2 linked regions of the Homo sapiens genome follow. The protein of the gene in region 1 interacts with the protein of each later gene in a pairwise test. Each region holds a gene or a part of one and is shown in the gene's direction. Other genes may lie near its edges.

Region 1 (3,500 bases):
TCTCTCTCTCTGTGTGTGTGTCTCTCTCTCTCTCTATATATATATCTCCACACACACACATTATGTTATACAATACATATATATTACTTTTCTTCCTATAATTAAACATGAGTTTAATAGCACATTACAGATGAACAACAATTACCTTATAGGCATGAGAAGTAACATGCAACAGGATGCTTCCACAGCAGCTGCTTTTACGGTGTTTGTGTAATTGTGTTTGTTGATGTGACCTTCTGTTATCACTATGGATTCACAGTTTGCATTTTACGACCTTGTATTATTGGGAGATTTCTTTGATAATTGTGAAGGCCCTTTATACATTTTAGTGCATTTGAATATAAAGTACTGTTATTATCACTAGTAGTTCAAAATTATTCCACGTGAAGGCAATATCACAGACTTAGTTTTGCCCTGAAAAAACTTTAGATGATTCTGTTTGCCTAAATCTCCTACAGCCTAATGATTACTGCAATTTTTTTTTTTTTTTTTTGAGACAGAGTTTCGCTCTGTTGCCCAGACTGGAGTGCAGTGGCACAATCTCGGCTCACTGCAACCTCTGCCTCCTGGGTTCAATTGATTCTCCTGCCTGAGCCTCCCGAGTAGCTGGGACTACAGGCATGCGCCACCAATTTTTTTGTATTTTTAGTAGAGACAGGGTTTCACCATGTTGGTCAGGCTCATCTTGAACTCCTAACCTCAAGTGATCTGCCCACCTCGGCCTCCCAAAGTGCTGGGATTACAGGCATGAGCCACAACGCTTGGCCCGATGGCTGTAATTTTTTATTGTGAAACTTACCTGCTTAGCTTTTAAAGGAATCAAAAATTGTTTATTCTGGGAGAACCTCTTTGAATGACAGATACAGTCATGGCAAAGATGCTTACTGGCACATAAATATTCTACCGAGAAGGGCAGCAATTCTCAAAGTATGGTCTGGGGAACCCTTTTTGGGGGTCTGTGAGGCCAACACTATTTTCAAAATTGTCTAAGATGTTAGTTGTTTTTTCCTCCTCTTATGAGTGTACAGTTAGTCTGCCCAAAGCTACATGATGTGTGATGAAGTCCTCACCCTGGTGGCCTGTGAAGTGTGTATTTACCTGTTCTAAAGGTCACTCTGTTTTCATTTCCAGTATGGTAGATATCAATAGCTATAGCCCATATTAACAAAAGCTCTTTAGGACCTCAATTTTAAGGTGAAGGGGTCCTGAGGCCAAAAAGTCTGAGGCCTACTGGAGTAGGATTGTTAACCTTGGTCATTTATTAGTCTTAGTAACTGGTGACCTCTCTCTCTTTTCAAATTCTTATATTTCTTATGGGGGCTTTAACTTATTATCTGTCACCCCCAATAATTTCAGACATAAATGTAGTTTCATTTATTGCAATACAGAATTAATGTAATTATTAATTTATTATTAATATAAATATAATTATTCAGGGTCAAGGAAGCCATTAGACATTTTCAGGATAAAATAAAATTAAAATATCCTAGAATGAGCCCAGAAAGCTAGCAAGCTGCTTTCTTCAAGGTAGCAAGCCCCAACGATATAGTAGGAAGGGAAAACATTATTGTTACTTTTTAAAGAAGATCTTAATGAAACCATTTGATTTCAGGGAAATGGAGAAAATGAGAGGTTCTTAGTGTTCAAAGTCTATTCATTAGCGTTATATAGATTAAAGGCAGTACCATGGAGTGTGCTTTTAAATTCAGATCATGTTCTGTAGGCCACATTTCAGAACAGCTGTGGTTTTTTTGTAGTAGAGTACCATTCTTAGAATCTGTTCTGTCCCCAAGCGCAGTTACTTAGTTATTGAAATTAGAGGTGATAAAGAAGTCCGCAGAGGAGCACATCTCCCAAAATGAAATCTTACTTTCTCTCGTGAGAACCAAGGCAGGAAGACTGTGGTGAGGGGCTCTTTCCTTTTCACACTCATGCTTCAGGACGACCCACTGTGTTTGGGGCTCTCTGTGCTCATACCTTGTGTGGTGTGAACCAGTGACCCTGTGTCTGTTAGGATTGGTGGTTGGGTGGCATCAGGCTGAAGAATAGGTGAGCGGGATCGTGCTGTTCAGCAGGAAAACTCAACCACAGGAAAAGACCACTTCCAGAACGTGGGTCTGCTCTGGATGCAAATAAATACATTGATTTTAACATAAGTTTTGTTTGGAGAACAGTTTAAGTTTTTAGAGGAAAATATTACTTTTATCATCTCTGTGTAGAAATAAAGGCAAGAGAGAAATATAAGGAAGTAGACACTCCCTATTTTCATACTGTTAGGATGCAGAATGTAATGCCATTTTGAAAGTACATAGGAGGTCATTTAAACAAAAAATTATTGAACAAATACTAGTAATGATTTTACAAGTTGTTGTTTTGTTTTGTTTTAGGTGAGAAACCTTTTGAATGTAACATTTGTGGGAAACATTTCTCTCAGGTGGGAATACTCTTATTTATTGTTAATAATTGGAAACCTGCAACACAGTGTTTTTTTATTGGAAATAAGACATACTTTTGTACTTGTGAGAGAAGCCTCTAATGATGTCTGTAACTTAAAGACTTCAGAATAAATTAGGATAAATCGTTTTCAAGAAAACAGATTTCTAGTTCTTTGAGAGAAAAATAGCATTTTCATGTGTGAATTCTTACAATACTTTTTTCGCCTTGCTAAGGATGAGTCCAAACTTAGCATATGTCTTCCGTTTCATGAATGAAGTTCACAGTGAACCACCTTGAGCTTGGCGTACCTGGAGGCTGCACATTGTGCTGGGTTAGGCTGAAGACAACTAGGTCTCCTCATTCTTGTTGGGACTGTAGATTGTAGGATGTTGGAAAAAAAGATGAAACAAGTTTTGTTCCCTGTGTTGACTGCTACCTTTAGCTGACCTCCATTAAGGTCATTTGGACACATAGGCATTCAGTCCTTGAGGAAACGTTTGTTTTACCCTCCCATGGGCCAGGTGCTGTGCTGGGCATGGGACACAAAGAAACCTAGAGACCTAATGTTTTCTAGAAAATGGCTTGTGGGAACCTATTCTTTCTGAAACAGAAGGTAACTATTCACCGCCATGTGCAGTGCCCTGGGCTTCCAGAGGTAGATCAGATGGAAGCTGCTCCAGGGCGTGAGGGCGCAGCTCTTCAGGGCACAGTCACTGGCACGACTGTCTCACACAGCATGGTAGATCCTGTGGCAGCAGTGCATGCCTCTGGAGCTGGGAGGCAGGCCCCGCAGAGCTTGGAAATGGCAAGCGCCGTGTTTGCTCGCATTCCCCCTAGAGCAGACTCTTCCAGTTTCTCTTCATCTGTTGAGGGTGTCAGTTCCATTTGCTCACACACCCAAACCTGCCATCTTAATGACTCTTCACCCTCCCACTCTCTGAGTCCCTGCCTGCTGGGATTCACCAAGTCCTCGCCGTCTCTCATCGCGTACTCGGTCGGGTCATGTCCTCCTGAGCACTTCATTTCTCTGGGCCTGGGGCCATGTCTTCTCTCCCATCCAGGAG
Region 2 (3,500 bases), on another chromosome or scaffold:
GGTGGTGGTTGTGGCGGTAAAAACTAGGTCACTGTTTTTGTTGTTTTGTCGATGATATTTGTGTTAAGATGAAGAGCTGAGACTCATATCTCAACAGAGTTTATAAAATGCTTTTCTTTTTTCCATCCTGCCCTCTCTTCTCCCTTGTCTGTTCGAGCTAGCCATGGGAATGTGGTGTTCCTGCCAGTGCATCCATTGAGTTCGTTTATTGTTAATTTATTTATTTTCTGAGATGGAGTTTTTGCTCTATTGCTCAGGCTGGAGTGCAATGATGTGATCTTGGCTCACTGCAACCTCTACCTCCTGGATTCAAGTGATTCTCCTGCCTCAGCCTCCTGAGTAGCTGGGATGACAAGTGCCCGCTACCATGCCCGGCTAATTTTTGTATTTTTAGTAAAGGCTAGGTTTCACCATGTTGGCCAGCGGGTCTCGAACTCTTGACCTCAGGTGATCCACCGACCTAGGCCTCCCAAAGAGCTGGGATTACAGGTGTGAGCCGCCACACCCTGCCGAGTTTGTTTATTTGAGCAGATAATGTGTGTTAGAGTTGCTTAGAAAAACAAGATGGTGGACGGGCCCCATGCTAGTGGGTACCATCCCTACTGGAAAAACCACTGCTTGGTGCATTAGCCAAATTTGCTTTAAAATTGTTTTTTAAAAAGGGAGGGCTTTTATAAAAATCAAATGAACTAGGACTGGTTAGTGGGAGGCTCACGCAAGGGTTGTGCTGAGGCTGGAAGGCCCAGAGTAGGAAGAGTTGTGGAGTGCAGAATGAGCTCTCCAAGGGCAGACACTGCCAGCCTCACTGTTCTCTGAACCCCCAGTATGGGGGACAGTGCTTGGCACAGAAAAACCCCCTTAAATGTTTGCTATGAATGGTGCTAAGGAAGAAGGCAGAGAATGTCAACCAGAGGCCAGGCACTGGGCAATATATACACGGCCCCTTCTGTGCCCTCAGCCACTTTGGCGCAGTCACTGTTTAGGTTAAAGATACCAGAGAAGGCAGGTATTCATGTTCCTACTTCGTAGGCAGAGACGTGGTGGCCCAGAGAGGTTAAATAACTCCCGAGATCACCCAGCTAAGCACTGTGGGATCACGGGTTTGAATCTGGTATGTCTGACTCCCTTCTGTACCCAGCACTGTCTGCTGGTCTAGGGCATAACCAGCCAGGGATGGGCAGCTCGTTCAGTAAACAGGAGAGCAGATGAATGACTCGTGTGGAGAGCACGCAGTGGAGTGAGCAAAACTGGGAGGCTGGAGAAGTCGCTTTAAATTAACCTGAAAATGTTTAATATGCTTTTTATTTTGTTTATTTTTTTTGAGATGGAGTCTATCTTTGTTGCCCAGGCTGGAGTGCAGTGGTGCAATCTCGGCTCACTGCAATATCCACCTCCCAGGTTCAAGTGATTCTTCTGCCTCAGCCTCCCGAGTAGATGGGATTACAGGCAACTGCCACCACGCCTGGCTAGTTTTTGTATCTTTAATAGAGATGGGGTTTCACCATGTTAGCCAGGAGGCTGGTCTCGAACTCCTGACCTCAAGTGATCTGCCCAGCTCAGCCTCCCAAAGTTCTGGGATTACAGGCATGAGCCACCACGCCCAGCCTTAAATATGGTTTTTATTTGAAAAAAAAAAAAATCCCTAGAAACATGTAGTGGAGACACAGCTTTAAAGCTCTGAATAGTTGATTTTCAGCTCATGCCTGTAATCCCAGCACTTGGGGAGGCTGAGGCGGGATGATTGCTTGAGGCCAGGCGTTTAAGAATAGCCTGGACAACATAGTAAGACCCCATCTCTAAAAAATTAAAATTAAAAAATAAAAAAAGAGTCGACTTTATTTCTGTAACTGGAAGAATCTAGCTAACATTTCTCAAGCACTTTATAGGTGCCAGGAACTCTACTTTAAGTAATTAAACTCAGGTTCTCATTTATACTTACATTCCTTGTGCCTATTGTATGGATAAGCAAACTGAGGCTCAGAGAAATTTAGGGACTTGCCAAAGGTCACACAGCTTTGTTAGTAGCAGAGATGAGATTTGGCCCAGGTCTGGCTCCGTGCACTTGATTTCTGCTCTTTAGTATCTCCTGGTTGAGTCACTGGAATACACAGCATAGCTTAAAATGAAGGAGGAAGTACTGAAGAGGTAATGGAAGGAGACCTAACTGTCTCTGAGAGGGAAGAGAGTGGTTGGGAGGGAACTATATTAATTGAGGAGTGCAGAGAAATTAATATGGTCCAAAGGAAAAAAAGGTTTTTTTGAGATGGAGTTTTGCTCTTATTTCCCAGGCTGGAGTGCAATGGCATGACCTTGGCTCACTGCAACCTCTGCCTCCCAGGTTCAAGCAGTTCTCCTGCCTCAGTCTCCCAAGTAGCTGGGATTACAGGCGCCCACCACCACACCCGGCTAATTTTGTATTTTTAGTAGAGATGAGGTTTCACCATGTTGGCCAGGCTGGTCTTGAACTCCTGACCTCAAGTGATCCACCCGCCTCGGCCTCCCAAAGTGCTGGGATTACAGGCATAAACCACCGTGCCCGGCTGGTCCAAAGAAAGTTGTGTGTCGAGAGCTCATCCAGCAGGCTTCTTAAATCAGGAGCTTGTAAGTTGCATATAAAGACAAAAAAGGGAGTTCCAAAGAGTAATGCTGTGGGAAATGACTTGAATTTAAACCGTCACCTTGTTTCATCTCATGGACTGGTCAGACACCATTTTTGTTGTCGTTGTTGTTGTTAAATTAATTGCTCAGAATATAGCAGCAGGCGCAAATTGTAGTACTCGTTTTAAAATTGAAGATTAAATTTTAAATTACCCAACAAAGGCCTAACTTTGTTAAAAGAGAGGGAAAGGACAGGTTCTGCCAGTATCTCTGGCCAGCTAGCTAACTAACTTTTTTCTTATTCCAAAAAAATGACTTGGGACCACTTATAAAAATTATGTATTGTTCAATGAGATACAATTAATGAGGAAATCAGGATGAGAGAAAAATAAAGGCAGGGAAATAAAGCTATGGCCCATTTAGCACAAACGCATCCCAAAGATTGCTAGAAGCAGAGGTGAAATTTTTGCTGTGTGTTAACAATCAAAGCAAAAAGAGGAACAAGGTCCATTAGAACATTCTCAGAATCCACAAGATAGAAATGAATCAGTTGTTCAGCATAAACACAGTGTTTCCTGGTGCTGTTGGAACACTTTGTGAAATTAGGGACAATATCTCATCAACATCCCAGACCAACATCCCAAAAGACCATTTAATAGCTTGCATCTGTGCTTCTCCCTACCCCATAGCCCCTCCCTCCAGAGATGACCACTATGCTGACTTGTAAAATATTAATCTTATATCCAGCCACCTTTCTTTTTCGTTTGTTTGTTTGTGTTTTTGCAGACAGAGTCTTATTCTGTCGCCCAGTGCAGTGTTGTGATCTCAACTTACTGCAACCTGTGCCTCCCAGGTTCAAGTGATTCCCCTGCCTCAGCCTCCCAAGTAGCTGGGATTACAGG

Evidence for each region. The genes of interacting proteins can lie anywhere in the genome.
Region 2: the proteins of ZBTB49 (region 1) and PECAM1 interact in binary tests that used the Homo sapiens proteins (3 or more experiments, as listed by UniProt).

The regions. Positions count from the first base shown.
Region 1 is NC_000004.12:4,303,751-4,307,250, forward strand, and holds part of ZBTB49 (zinc finger and BTB domain-containing protein 49), read left to right. Parts: intron 1-2,387; coding exon 2,388-2,434; intron 2,435-3,500. UniProt on the Homo sapiens protein: Transcription factor. Inhibits cell proliferation by activating either CDKN1A/p21 transcription or RB1 transcription.
Region 2 is NC_000017.11:64,380,861-64,384,360, reverse strand, and holds part of PECAM1 (platelet endothelial cell adhesion molecule precursor), read left to right. Parts: intron 1-3,500. UniProt on the Homo sapiens protein: Cell adhesion molecule which is required for leukocyte transendothelial migration (TEM) under most inflammatory conditions.